Linked DNA regions of Homo sapiens. The protein of the gene in region 2 interacts with the protein of the main gene of each other region in a pairwise test. Each region holds a gene or a part of one and is shown on either strand. Other genes may lie near its edges.

What was found.
Region 1: the proteins of CACNB4 (region 2) and MAP1A interact in a two-hybrid assay, tested with the Homo sapiens proteins (one study listed by IntAct).

The regions. Positions count from the first base shown.
Region 1 is NC_000015.10:43,520,590-43,527,617, reverse strand, and holds part of MAP1A (microtubule-associated protein 1A), read right to left. Parts: intron 6,978-7,028; coding exon of another isoform or gene 6,895-6,977; intron 6,647-6,894; coding exon of another isoform or gene 6,506-6,646; intron 6,295-6,505; coding exon of another isoform or gene 6,145-6,294; coding exon 1-6,144. UniProt on the Homo sapiens protein: Structural protein involved in the filamentous cross-bridging between microtubules and other skeletal elements.
Region 2 is NC_000002.12:152,096,021-152,103,864, forward strand, and holds the start of CACNB4 (voltage-dependent L-type calcium channel subunit beta-4), read right to left. Parts: upstream 3,025-7,844; 5' UTR 2,992-3,024; coding exon 2,929-2,991; intron 2,744-2,928; exon of another isoform or gene 2,630-2,743; coding exon of another isoform or gene 2,621-2,629; intron 2,394-2,620; coding exon 2,310-2,393; intron 1-2,309. UniProt on the Homo sapiens protein: The beta subunit of voltage-dependent calcium channels contributes to the function of the calcium channel by increasing peak calcium current, shifting the voltage dependencies of activation and inactivation, modulating G protein inhibition and controlling the alpha-1 subunit membrane targeting.

The sequences.
Region 1 (7,028 bases), on a different chromosome or scaffold from region 2:
CTCTGGCCTTGGGGGTACAGTGGGTCCTGCCAGGGCTGCATAGCTGAAGGTTGGAGTGTCAGACTGGAGGCTCTTGGGTGAGATAGGAGATGAAAGCTCCTTCTCTGCAGATGTGTTTCGGCCGGCAGCTGCCTCCTTGGTTGAGAGGCATGGGGGCCAATCCCCAGCTGCTCCAAGTGGAGGCTCTCTAGTGGGGCATGCAGGGCCAAGCCCAGTAAGCATCATCTGCTCATAGATGTCTGCATACTGAAAGCTTCTCTCATCAGGATAGGGTGTGGGCTCTCTCTGCTCCGGCTCAGTCTGCTCAGGCTCCGTGGTGGCATGGCTTTTGCTGGCCTCTGGTACCTTTGAGCTGTGTGAGCTTTTGTCAGGAGCCTCAGCCCTACCTTCTTCTTCCCTTTCCCCTTCAGCCTTGCGGTAGTCCTTCCCCAGGGGGGAGTATGGCCCACCTTCCAACTCAGCTGCCCCCTCCTGCACTGCAGCCACCACACTGTCATACTCGGCTGTGCCCCAAGAGAAGGGTGCAGGAGTATGGGATTCCGGGGCAGGTGTGGGGGGACCAGGAGCTGGGGAGAGGGGTGCAGGGGGGAGGGGTCTGTCCTTGGGCACCCAGGGTGGGATGTCAGCCAGCCATGAGGGAGTAGTGGGTTCATTCTTCATGTGTGGCATGAGCTTAGGGTCTGGGATAGGACTCTCTTGTCCTGGGGCTGAAGGAACCCTTTGTCCAACCATCTCAGGTGGGGAAGCTGGAGGGGAGATGATCTCAAAGGGAGAGCGGGTCAGTTTGTCCTCTTCCTCTGGTGGCAACCCAACTGGTGATTCAGCAAGCCAGCGCTCCACCTCTAGCCCCTTCTGTGGTGAGGATTCCTGGAAATCCTTGAAGTCTGAGGCCCAGGGGCTCCGGGTTGCGTGTTCCCGCAGGGGTACTTCTTGCTCATCATCTGGGCCCTCATCTAGGAAAGTGCTTTCCCGTTCCTCAGTGTAGTGTGGGCGGGCCCCCTGGCCATCCAGCTCGTGAGGGAACCAGACCTTCCGCTCACAGCTTAGCTCCCTCCAGTATGTGTCCTGTTCCAAGGCCACATCCTCTCTGCCCCTCCAATACCTATTGTCCTGCTCAGGAGATGTGTCCTCCCATGCCGGGGCAAGCTCTTTCTGTTCTCCAGCCGGCTCCTCTCTGGTAGGAGATGTTTCTTGCCACTCCTGGACCACATCCTGCCCCCTCCAGTACTTTTCTTCCTGCTCTCTGGCCCTGCCCTCCTGCACTAGGCTCTCTTCCAGGCCCAGAGCTTTGGTCTTCTCCAGAAGAGCTTCTAACTTCTCTTCCATGGCCTTGACCTTTTCTGGGGATTTTTCCTCTAGCATCTTTGGTTTCCTGGTTTTATCCTCCTGCACTAGGCTCTCCTGCTCCTGAGTTTGGTGGTTCTCTTCCAGAGCCTGAATGTTTTGTTCCAGGGCTTCATCCTTCTGTCCCAAAGCCCAGTATTTTTGTTCTAAGGCCTGATCCTTCTTTTCTGAGACTTTATCCTTTTGTTCCTGGGCCTGGTGTTTCTGTTCAGGGGCTTTGTCTGTCTGTTCTAGGTCTCTGTCCTTCATTTCAGCGACCGTGTCCTCCGGAGCCTTATGTTCAACACTTCTGACTTTTTGATCTAAGGCTTTGTCTTTCTCTTCTGGGATCTTCTCCTTCTGTTCTAGGACCCTGTCCTTTTGTTCCAAGTCTTTATCTTTTGGTTCCAGGGCCTTGTCCTTCTGTTCCAGGGCTGTATCCTTTTGTTCTAAGGCTTTGTCTTTCTCTTCTGGAATCTTATCCTTCTGTTCCAGGGCCTTGTCTTTTTCTTCTAAGTCTTTGTCTTTTGGTTCCAGGGCCTTGTCCTTCTGTTCTAGGGCTGTGTCTTTTTGCTCTAAGTCTCTGCCCTTTTGTTCTAAAGCCTTATCCTGCTGTTTCACAGCCTCATTCTTTACATGCAGAGCCTCATCTTTCTGATAGATGGCTGTATCCTTCGGCTCTACCACCTCCTTGTGCTCCAGAGTTTTGTCTTTCTGCTGTAAAACTTCATCCTTTGGCTCAGGTTCCTTCTTCTGTTCTGAGGTTCTGTCTTTCAACCCTGGAACTTTATCTTCCCACTTTATGGCAATGTCCTCCAAGGCAGGGCCTGGCAAAGACTCAGGACTCTTGGAGAAGGAGCTATCAGGTGTCAGAATGTGTTCATCAGGGCTTGTGATCGCCCCAGGTAAGTACTTCCCATTTCCTGAAGGTGTAGAGTGAGAGAATGAGCTGGCAGGTGACTTCCTGTCAAGGCTGTCATCTGTGATGTCTGTCTGTGCAGAGTATCGAGTTGTCCCATCTGTGGGAGGTGACGCTGTGGCTGCATGGGGCTCTGGAACAGACATGGGAGCTGTGTGGTGAGAGGTATCCTCGGCCTGCATCAGATGCCCCATTTCTTCCTTCCCAAGGTTTAGTTCCCCAAACTGGAGGGTGCCAAGGCTTTCTGGAGAGAGCTGCTTAGAAGAGACATCCAGGGAGGTCTCCTTGCTGGGACTCTCTTCTGACAGAGAAAGTGACTGGGTGTCTTCTGGAGATACCTCTGGCCAACGGTCTTTGTGTAGGTACTGTTCTGTCAGGCCACAGGGAGACTTGGGGGTAGGCTCTTGGTTGGCAGTGTCTGGGGAGGGCACGCTGAGGACAGAGAGGGATTCTGCATCTTCAGGAGAGAGGCTTCGGTCAGGATATCTGAGCACCTCATCTTTCTGAGGTTTGCCAGGTTCTTGGGGTAAAGTCCTCAAACCTCCGGGAAGGGCTTCTGCTCCCAGAATTGGGCCTGTGGGCTCTCCTGCCTCCATAATCTCAAAGACTATTGCTTTATCCTGTGCTGGCAACAGTTGAATGGTACAGCCTGTAAGCCCCTCATCAATGTTGACAGGTGCTTCCTGGGCCTGGGGGCTCCTGGGAGGAGGAACTTTCTCTTCCTTCTCTAGTGTGCCCTCTTCAGGCCCTGGCTTGACTGTCTCCTCAGCAGCATCTTCTTTGCCCACACCTGGTGTGCGCTTAGTGTCTCCCCAGGAGTCTGCCTCCTGAAAGTCTTGGGGCTCAGACTTTTCTTCCACTGGGGACTGATGAAAGGGTGTGTGGGTGGCACTGGGTGGGCCAGATGGTGGAGGAGAAGCCATCTTCACTGTGCTGTCATCTGGGCTAAGGCACCGCTCCTCTGCTTCTCCAAGGGCTGGTTCTCCTGGATGTAGGGCATGCCCAGGGGCACTAAACACTGGAGTTCCATATTGACTGCAAAGTTTCTCAGACATCTCTACGTTTGCTGTCTCCTCCTCTTCCTCTTCCACAGCTCTCTCTCCAGACAAGCCTTTCCCTATGATCTCTCCTCTCTTCTCTGACTCCCCAGTCACAGAGAAGTCCTCACAGGGTGGTGATTTGAAGCCCTTGTCTTCTTCCAGTGAGGAGGTGGGTGAGATGGTACCAGCTGATGGCACATAGTCCAAGCCCTGCGTAGCTTCAGTACGGGAGGAAGGGATGCTTGTGACTGTGTCAAGCAGCAGGGAGCTCTTGCCTGTCTCCTCTGTCTGGGGAGCTGTAAGTGAGGCCACAGATTGGTCCTCAGCCACTGATGTGGCAAAGGAAGAAAGTTTGTCACACTCAGTGATTGAAGTGGCCGAGGACACATGTTCCTCTTCAGCCAAAGGGGCAGCCACTATGTTAGTGGGGTAGGTGAGTTCAGTCTCTGGCGTTCCATAGACTTTGCCAGAGGTAGCAGGAACAGCACTATCGGCAGGTTGGCTGGCTTCGAATGGGCCAGCACCTTCAGGCCCGGGCAGGTCATATGTACTTGTATGAAATCTGGGTGGAGCTGGGCGCTCCTCCGGCTCATCATGGATCTCCTCATCTGAGATGGTCTGCTCAGTCTCTGAGTAGCCAGGGATTGTCTCATCCTGGATGTAAGAGACATGCTCAGTGGCTCCTGCAGGTGTGGTCAGGCTGCTTAGGAATAACGAGGTCTCCTTCTCAGGGGCCTTGCCCTGGAGTCCCAATTCCCGACCCCCAAAAGCCTCCCGGCTCCTTGGAGTTACCTTCAAGGGTTCCTGCATATGTTTTTGGTAAAAACCCTCAGCTTTTGTCGCGTCCTCTTCCTCCTCATCTGAAGGGTGTACCTCCTCCATTTCTTCTAACTCAGCCTTTTCTATCACATCCTCCTTTACTTCAGGTTCACTTTCCTCTCTGGCTTCTGTTCTGTCTGGGAGCCTCTCTGCTTCCCTCTGCTTCTTTTCCTCCCAGGTATCTTTCTCTTCCTCTGTTTCAGCCCCAGAGTCTAGGCCTCTGTCCTTGCTGCCTTGTTCCTCAGGGACCTCTGGGACAAGCTCTTTCTCCTTCATCACATGTTCTTCTTGTCCCAGCCCTGGAACAGAGGGTGGTGTTCCCTGGATAGCTGTACTTGGGGGTCCCTCCTCTGCAGTGTCTAGAGGGAATGGCTTATCTCCTAGTCCTGTGTCCCTTTGTTCAGCCAGCAAAGCCCTCTCCTCACGCTTCATCTCCTCAAAGTCCTGTGTGAGGTCCTCTGGTGAGGATAGGACCAGCTCCCTGTGCCCACTGATGGTTGGGAGTGGTACAGTTCCCTTCTGGGCTGGGGGTGTCTGGGGCTCAGAAGACAGCTCCTTCTCCCCACGGATAGCACGGCTCCTGTCTATTTTGACTCTTCCAGGGACCTTGGCTTTATAGAGGGTCTTACGTACCTCAGGAGTAAAGGGCTTTAGGTCTGGCTTGGAAATCTTCTTGAGCTCAGGTTTGGTATCTTTCCTCTTCTCCTCCTTCTTGGCATCCTTCTTCTCCTCCTTCCTTCCTTCATCCTTCTTGAGCTCTTTCCTCTCCTTTTTGATCTCTTTTTTCTCCTTGTCTTTTTTTTCTTCCAGCTTTGATATCTTTTCTTTAAGGTGCTTTTTCCCTACCTTGTCTTTGATCAGCTTTCGCTTCTCTGCCTTCAGTGCCTCACTTGACTCTGTCTTCACCCTCTCAGGCTTGGCAGGCTTCTCTGGGGGCTTCTCAGATGACTCTTTTGCCTTCTTCTCTGTCTTGGCTAACTCCTTGGCCAGCTCTGAACGTGCCTCCTTGGCTCCCTCTTCTACCACCTCCTCCCGTTTGGCCAACTTGCTCACGGCCGTCTTGGTAGTGGCTTTGAGGCTCTCCTTGCTATCAGCCCGCTGTTTGATTTTGCTGGGCTTGAGGTTGGTAGGCACAGCCCCAGAAGCCAGGTCCTTCTGCGTGGCCACAGGGTAACGCAGGAAGTCCAGATGCCGAAGCTTTTCTAGGCCCTCCAAGATCTTGTTTTGGGGAGCATTTCCTGGAAAAAGCACACGCACAATCTTCTCAGTGGGATTGGCTGGTAGCCAGACCACCAGAGCAGTGATAGAGGTAAGGTAGGGCACGGAGATCTCAGCCTCCTTCCCATTGGGCAGCACGATGCCTGTCTTGGCTTTACTATTGCCTGCCCACTTTTGCATGAGGAACTGCATCTCCTTGCTGTCCTTGACAGGGTTGAGGACATACATGTCCAGCCGGCCCACACCCATTTTGTGGAAGAGGGTCAGTGGCTCAATGGTATTGCTGACCACACGATATAGAGGCTCAGCCTGGATGCCCAGGCGGTTTAAGTGCTGCAGAGTGAGGCAGGCCTCCTCAATGCTACGCTTGGCTTTCCGGGAGGCATCAGGAAGCCGCAGCTTCTCAGGCACGTTGAAAAAGACAACTCCAAGCTCAGGAGAGATAAGGTTCTTCACCCAGTCGCTGTAACTGCTAGAGCCCTGGGACTGCTCCTCCTCTAGCTCTGCCACTTTGCGCTGCAGTAGTCCATTGATGCCTGGCAGGTTGTCTGCCCCAATGTGTGTGAGTAGCACCGAGTCAATGCGGTCCAAGTGCCGTACCAGCTTCCAAAAACAGGACTTGCGATCAGAGCCACCATCCACCAGGATGTTGAAACCATTGACAGCAAAGAGGGCAGAGTCCCCACGACCACCTGGGAAGATGTAGCAACAAGGCTTGGAGAGCTTGAGGAAGCCCCCTGAGGTGGGGGGCTCTAGTAGGTCAAATGGGGATGGCACGTCCACAGTCTCAGAGACATACTCGGAGAACTCAGCCACGCCGTCCATGGTGGGCAGAGTGGGCTCAGGGTTTAGCCGGAGGTGCAGGGTCTCTTGGGAACTGGATAATCCCAGGTGGCTCCAATCACCTTCCCCTAAGCAGGACACGGTAAGGAAGGCCTGTATCCCAGGGTCTCTATTGCTGAGCAATTGGGAAATCTAGAAGAATAGGAGATAGAAACCTGATCAGGTCACTAGAGTTGTTTTGGTCTGACTTAGATTCAGTACCCTAATCTTCACCTCTTTCCAAGGTGGACTCTTACCTTTCTGCCAGGGCCCCCCATGGTCATGCAATATGAGACTTTCCCTTAGATCCCTCCCACAGCTCTAGTGCTACCCTTTCTCCCAGACACTCTGGCATGGAACTTACCTCGGGGTTGTGAAGGACCTGGGCAAAGTTTTCATATGAGTAGGTGCCACTCTGTAGGATGAGGTCTCCCCCAGGCTCTAAACTTTGCCCACTCAAGATTAGTAGTTTATAAGCTGATGAGCTGCTAAGAAGATGATGAACCTGGAATGGAAGAAGGGGAGTGGTCACAGATATAGGAAATCCAGGGAAAGGCAATGAATGGCCCCTCAGTACCTCAAGAACATGCTCCCAACTTATGTCCCTCATAACACCTCCAGAGTGGGCTGGAGACAATACGTCAGCTTAGATGGCAGAGAGAGGAATTCTTGGCCTAATAGTGGTAGCACTGGCAAGGGTGGGTATAGCACTTGCACCAGGCCTGTTTGGCAAGGCACAGGCCCTGGCCTTACCTCAGAGCTGATGCTGTCTGCACTGGGATTTACCAGGATGATGGTCTCTAGGATCTCACTCTGGTGGCAAAGGGTCCTCTGGCCTGAGGGAGAGATGTAGGAATTTATATTGAGAATAGGTATAGAAATTGTGG
Region 2 (7,844 bases):
CAATTTTATCCGAAAGTTATTGTTAAACTGCATTTGTAATCATTTTCCTTATCTCATCAAAGAAATGTAAATCCCTCAGTTATTTTTATTGTAGCCAATACAGAAGTCTGTATGATGTCATTTGAATGAGATCATGTGTAGTATACTCAGTGAGTTGTAAAGTGCTCATAAAAATTAAGTAGCCCGGGCATGGTGGCTCACGCCTGTAATCCCAGCACTTTGGGAGGATGAGGTGGGCAGATCACGAGGTCAGGAGATAAAGACCATCCTGGCTAACACGGTGAAACCCTGTCTCCACTAAAAATACAAAAAAGTTAGCCAGGCGTGATGGCGGGTGCCTGTAGTCTCAGCTACTCGGGAGGCTGAGGCAGGAGAATGGCGTGAACCCAGGAGGCAGAGCTTGCAGTAAGCAGAGACTGCGTCACTGCACCCCAGCCTGGGCGACAGAGCAAGACTCCGTCTGAAAAAAGAAAAAAATTAAGTACTATTTTTGTGCCGAAAAATAAGATTGTGTATATAATACAATTACAATTAACTCCTGAATTTAAATTAGACCATTTAATCAAACCAATGAATTCCCATTTCATAGATGAAATATATTTATTTAAAAAAATCTACTTTGCTTTAAATTATTCCCAAAATTATTTAGCATGCAATACTTTTAACATTTCTTAAGCCAGCACATAGCAGCACGCTTTACAAGAACTTATATATACATCATCTCAATCAGTTACGGGCATAAATTGAGAAAAGAGTAAGAATATTAGAATATTATTTTGTTTGTGCTTGGAAGGAAGAATAAAGCATTAGTGCAGTTATGTAGATGAACTCAAAAGTTTTAGTCAAACAGCTTATGGAAAGAACTGCTGTGTAATTAGTATTTCCAAGAATTTGCAACAATGAAACACCACTAAAAATAGGCACCTACAAAATAAACACCAGCAAGACCTCAAACAGTTGCATAACAGAAAAATGTTTTTAAGATAAACAATATGTTTGCCTTATCAAATACATAATCTAAATACTGCAAAGGGGATAGAATGCACTTTTAGAATGAATTCGGAATCCAAAATGCATTTATTTCCATAATGTACATGCTTAGTGCTCGCTGAATTAAATGGTAGTCAAAATTTCCGCTTCTGCAGAAAGTGAAATTCTGCATAATAAATATCATCTAAATATGCTTTATAGACCCTTTTAGGAGAGGTCTGAGTTCAATTTTGATATCAATTCCTCGTTGATATGTTTAAATTGATGATAATCACTAAAGAAACACCAGAGCTGCCATCATAGGTTAGAAAACACATTACACAATACTGAGTGACCTAGAGGGAAAAGAACTTCTCAAGGTCACTCCAGCAGCCCACAGGAAGACCTGGGATAAAAGCCTCTTGGTGCGATGACCAATGTCTTCCTAGGTCACCCGAAACCTAGGACACACCCCGACAATTTCTGTTCCAAAGAAAGATCAAGGTGACTCATTGCATGATCTCTCTAGCACCCAGCAGCCAGGGGTGGTTTCATTAACAGCACATGGACAGTTGGAAAACTGAGGACCAATTTCCTGTGCCAAGGTGAAAGGCACCTAAGCATTGAGCATTACCAGCGATCCGGAGATCCCGAGCACAGACAATTCGCACTAGAACCACGCAGGAGAAAGCAAGCACTAAGAAAACAAACACGAAGTGAAGGCGCACCCAGACCCGGAGCTGAGTGCTGGCCTTCGTTAATTCCTATTTAACCAGATACAGCTGTCTTTCCCTAACTAAGCGAATCCAAGAAGCGGTCCTAAAGTGAGAGTAAACTTTCTGCTCAGTGTCTTTCTTTTGACCGGAGCTTGACGATCTCTCCCAAGATCCAGACAGATAAGAGTATTCAAATTAGGACAAAACAGAAGAAACCACTAAATCTCAACTCGAATCAAACCAGGTCCCCGGCCCCGAGGGGTCTGGTTACTCTAGGTCGAGTTATACGAATTAAAGACATTTCTCCACGCACCAAAGATACAACCAGACATATTTCCAGCTCTTAAATTCAACGTCCCTGACTTAAGCCAGGTCCCCACCGAACTGTCCACACACATGCACAAACTAACTTCCCGGGGCGGTGCGGAGACGCCGGGACGCGAAGACGTCAAGAGCCCAGGCTAGAGGGAGAGGGACTGAGCCCGAGCACCGGCCGAGGCCGGGAAGAGACGCGCGCGGGCTTGACCCGCAGCTCCCGCACGTGTGGGCCACGGCCGGCTCCAGGACCCCCGCGCCGCGCGCTCGGCCTCCTCCCCATCCTGGTCTCCCGCCTCCTTCTCATACCTGTCTGAGGATGAAGCTGGTCGAAGTGGTGCTGCCATCGGATCTTTTCAACCTGCTCCTCCGGGTTGTGGTGCCTCGGGCCACCTGGACTCGACACACGGGGGCCAGAGAGAAGCCGGTGAGGACCGCAGCGCAGAGCGGGGCGACCACCCCCGGCTGGAGTCCGCCTCCGGACCCGCTCCCTGGGGTCCCCTAGAGCCCGCACCCAAGTCTCCTCCGCGACTCCCAAATACAGCCCCCACCCCCACCCACCCACTGCAAGCCTCGACTGCTGAAAAGATGCTCGAGAAGAGCAGCCCGCAAGCACCCACCACATCCATTAACAAAGACTCTCAGGGTGCGGGGTCCGAGTCCCCGGCATCCGCTGGGGGAGGCTGCGGGCTCCGGAGCGGGAGCGCAGAGACCCGAAGGAGGGTGAGGAGGAGGAGGAAGAGAAGGAGGAGAAAGAGGAGGAGCGGGAGGAGAAAGGGACGTGGAGGAGGGGTGGGGGGAGCGGGGCCGCCGACTCCCGGGACTGGGGCCCCGCACGCCCGGCACGAAGGCGGGGCGCGCTAGGGCGGCGGAGGAGGTGTGAGGAAGGAAGAGGAGGAAGAGGAGAAGGGGGAGGAGGGGGCGGTACCTGCGAGGTGGGGGAGTGCGGCCCGTCCGCGGTCCCGTTCTTGGCGTAGGAGGAGGAGGACATCGTTCAGAGCCGCCGCATGGCCAGCCCGTGTGCGGTGGGCGGAGGGGGCTGGCCCCCGAGGCTGGGCTGCGGACGGAGGGGGAGGGCGCAGGACTTCCCCACCCGGCTCCAGGACCCGCGCCGGCGCCCAGGCTCCCTGCCCGCACTTCGGAGAGCGCGGCACCTTAAAGGGACCGAGGCGCTTCCCCCGCGCTCGCGGCGGGGTCCCGGGGAGGGGGCTTCTCGGAAACTCGCCTACCCGAGCGGATTGGGAGAAGCGCTCTCCCACCTAGCAAGCGCTTTACATCAGAGCTTCCAGAGGATGAAGGGAGGGGGAAATCTGGGATGGGGGTGGCAAGATTAAAATAGTCTGCACAGTTTAAAATGAGACAAAGGTGGCACGGTTCATGAATCAGGACTTGGGGACGGAAGCTGGTGCAGTGTGGCGGGAATGGGAAGAACCGAGCGGGTGTGTGTGTGTGTGTTTGCTGCACTGGAATTTTAAAAGGGCAAGAGCAGAGCCACCTTCCGCGACTTCACTCATCAGCCTAATGTGTAAGGCATGGGGTTTTGTGGCTTGCTTTTCGTCCGTGTTTTTGTATTGCTTTGGCAATTCTGTCCTTAGAGCTGCGAGTCACACACATCCAGGCAGCTGTGAGAAACCCAGCCAGCCTGAGTCTGACGGGAGATGCTGCCCCGCCAAAGACCAGTATGTCCTACGGAGTTTTGAAGGTCATGTTAGACCTGCTAAGAAGCAAGAGTTGGTCACTGTGCCTCCCATTTCTATGCGAATGGATATTTTCAAGGGGGAGAAACTCATCCTTGCAACCATACACAACGTTTGCCATTGGTTTCCTCCTGTAAATACATACAAGAGATTAATTTGTGATCAAATTAAAAGAGAGGGATTGCGGAAAGGAAGAATAAGTGCGAGGTATTGACAGAGGAATAAGAAGAGGGAAGAAAAGTATATGCAAATTCAAAAATAAAGAGACTCCGTTTAAATTAAAATATACTTACTATCTCAAATCGCTAAATCAGCTTGCATTCTAGGACTTTATGTTTATGGACACAACTACCATGCTTGTTTTAATAATTGCTTGGCTTTATTGAGGTCCTGGTTATATCTTACCATCCACCAGACACTTCCTTTCCATTCCTAATCCCTTCACTTAATCCAAACCTCTGTAACAATCTTATAACTAATGTCCTTGCCTCCAGGCTTCCTGGTGCATGTGCACGTATGCACATGCACACATACACACGCAGAGATTTCATTCCATCTACACACTACAGGCAAAACCATTTTCCTAAAATATCTTGCCCAAGTCACTCTTCTCTAAGATAAAGTCCAAACTCCATGGTCCAACAACTCAGCCTCTCCTGCATTTCTGATCACTCTCCATCTCATTTCTCCATCTTGATCTCTCTATACAAACCTTCCAGCAAGCAGGCAGGTCTAGTCATCAATACCCAAGTATTCCAAATACAATCACATTTGAGCTCTTCTGCTTTGGAATGCCTCCTTGGAATATGCCCTCCCAACAACCTACACACCCGGCTGAATCCTACCTTTCTTCTAAATGGGACTCAGCTCACGCTTCCTCCACAGAAATCCTATCTGACTACTCCAGTCCCACATAATTCTTGTGCTTCTGAAAAACTGGAGCATGTATTCTCTGGGCACTTAGAATAGGCTGCCTTAGCTTATTAGTTTGTTAGTTCTGTTTTTGTGAAAATCTCCTAATTTTCAGAATTTTTAGCGGTTTATCTTCTATTCCTATACCTTCCATATAGTAGATACTCCATGAATTTATGGGGAATGGAGGTCTAACCATGCAGGACTCCCTACTTTAGTTACTGTCAACCCAATCCGTATTTAGTTCTGAGCCATTTTCATAGTTGATACGTGTGTGCATATTAAATTACTATGTGAGCACTGGACTTTGAATTGTGTGGTTTTCCACTGTCCACATTCTCACTGACTTTAAGTTATTGAAACAGAACCCACAGAGGCATAACAACATGAGAAGCCCTGTACACCCAGCTCAAAGCAAAACTGGTGAAAATTATATGTTTTATATATAAGCAACCATTTAAATTTCTAAAAATGGTCCTAAAGGTGCACAACAAATGAAGGAACATTTATTCAAGAAAACCTACTGAAACCCAGTAAGAAAAGTGAGCTTGAGGTATTTGAACCAAGACCTACTCACTCTTTTCATGCTTCCAACTCAGAGAGGGCTCCACGCTATACTGGTGCAGCCAAGAACACAGGGCTCCCTCACCCTTCAGCTCCCAGTTGGAGGGTCAGCTTCCTAGGAGGGACAAAACATCAGCATTTGTCATCCTCCCCGCAGCTACCTGTTGTTGAGACTAAGTTCTAAGCAAGTATGGCAGAGGTGGGGGCTCCCTTCTTCTGCCCAGTTGTACCTGGAGGCTGTACCTTGGCCACAGCAGCACTGAGTGTACTTGGGCCTTGATCACCTTTGCTTCTGGCTCATCGAGAAAGAAGTCAGGAAACGTGGGACTGCTTTGAGTGCTTCTGCCAGAAACATTCAGCATCTAACATGGTGATGTCACTCAGAGAGAGGTGCATCATTGTCCCTACCTCTGACACCAGAGTGGAAAAAATGATGTTGAACCCTGACCTTACATCAAGGATCCCCAACCCCCAGGCCACAGACTAGTACCAGTCTGTGGCCTGTTAGGAACTGGGCCACACAGCAGGGAGTGAGCGGTGGGGCAAGTGAGCATTATGGCCTGAGCTCCGCCTCTTGTCAGATCAGGGGTGGCATTACATTCTCATAGGAGTGCAAACTCTATTGTGAACTGCACATGCACGGGATCTAGGTTGTGGGCTTCTTATGAGAATCTAATGCCTGATTATCTGTCACTATCTCCCCTCACCCCCAGATGAGACCATCTAGTTACAGGAAAACAAGCTCAAGTCTCCCACTGATTCTACATTATGGTGAGTATGTAATAATAATAGAAATAAAGTGCACAATAAATGTAATGTGCTTGAATCATCCCCAAACCATCCTCCATCCCCGTCCCATAGAAAATTGATCTTCCATGAAACCAATCCCTAGTGCCAAAAAGGCTGGGGATTGCTGCCTTATATCATATACAAAAATTAACTCAAAATTAATCAAAGACTTAAAAGAGTTAAAAATATAAAACTATTAGAAGATAAGGGTAAATCTTCATGACCTTAGATTTGGCAATAAATTCTTAGACATGACACCAAAAGCATGAGTAGGAAAAGAAAAAAATGTTAGACAGGCATGGTGGTGCGTGTCTGTGGTCCCAGCTAACCAAGAAGCTGAGGTGGGAGGATTGCTTAAGCCCAGGAGGTCGAGGCTGCAGTGAGCTGTGACACGTCACTGTACTCCAGCCTGGGCACCACAGTGAGACTCCATCTCCGGCTCAAGCAATACCTCAGTCTTCTGAGTAGCTGAGACCACAGGTGGGCACTACCATGCCTAGCTAATTTTTTATTTTTTATAGAATTGTAGTCTCCTTGTGTTGTCCAGGCTGGTCTTGAACTCCTGGACTCAAGCCATCCTCCCACCTTGGCCACCCAAAGTGCTGGGATTACAGGTGTGAGCCACTGCACCCTGCCTAATTGTATACTTTGAGTGGGTGAATTGTATGGTATGTGAATTATATGTCAATAAAGTTATTATTTTTTTAATCTTCAGATCTTACAGAAAAATTAACTCAAAATGGATTACAGACCTAAGTGTAAATGCAAAACTACGAAACCTCTAGGGGAAAACAGAAGACAAAATCTCCATGAGTCTGAGTTTGGTGTTGAGATTTTACACCACCACCAAAAGCATGATGCAAGAAAATAAAAATTGATATTCTGGGTTTAATTAAAATTAAAAATTTCTGCTCTGTGAAAAACTCTGTTAAGATAATAAGAAGACAAAGAACTTGTAAACAAAATATACAAATAACTCTTAAAACTCAACTATAATAGGCCAGGCTCGGTGGCTCACGCTTGTAATCCCAGCACTTTGGGAGGCCGAGGCGGGTGGATCACAAGGTCAGGAGATTGAAACCATCCTGGCTAACATGGTGAAACCCTGTCTCTACTGAAAATACAAAAAATTAGCCGGGCATGGTGGCAGGCGCCTGTGGTCCCAGCTACTCGGGAGGCTGAGGCAGGAGAATGGCATGAAGCTGGAAGGCAAAGCTTGCAGTGAGCCAAGATCACGTCACTGCACTGCTGCCTGGGTGACAGAGCGAGACTCCGTCTCAAAAAAAAAAAAAAAAAAAATTCAACTATAATAAACAATTCAAATAAAAAATGGACAAAAGTAGCAGGGGGTTGTGGCTCATGCCTGTAACCCCAGCACTTTGGGAGGCTGAGGAGAGAATTGCCCAAGAAGCCGGGAGATGAAGACCATTCTGAGCAACAAAGCAGGACTACATCTCTACAAAAAAAAAAAAAAATTAGCCATGCGCAGTGGGTGGCATGCGCCTGTAATCCTAGCTATTTGAGAGGCTGAGGTGGGAGGATCCCTTGAGCCCAGGAGTTTGAGGCTGCTGGGAGCCATCATCTCACTACTCTACTCCAGCCTGAGACACAGGAGACCCATCTCTAAAATTTGAAAAAAAAAATGTATTTAAATGAACAAAATATTTTAATGGATACTTTACCAAAGAAGACACATAGATAGCAAATAGGCACATGACAAGATGTTCAACATCATTTACTTTAGGGGAAATGCAGATTAAAACAACAATGCAATGCCACTATACACCTATAAGGATGACTAAACATAAAAATGATAATAGCAATGGCTAGTAAGGATAAGGAGCAATAAGAACTCTCATTCATTGCTGATGGTAATGCTAAA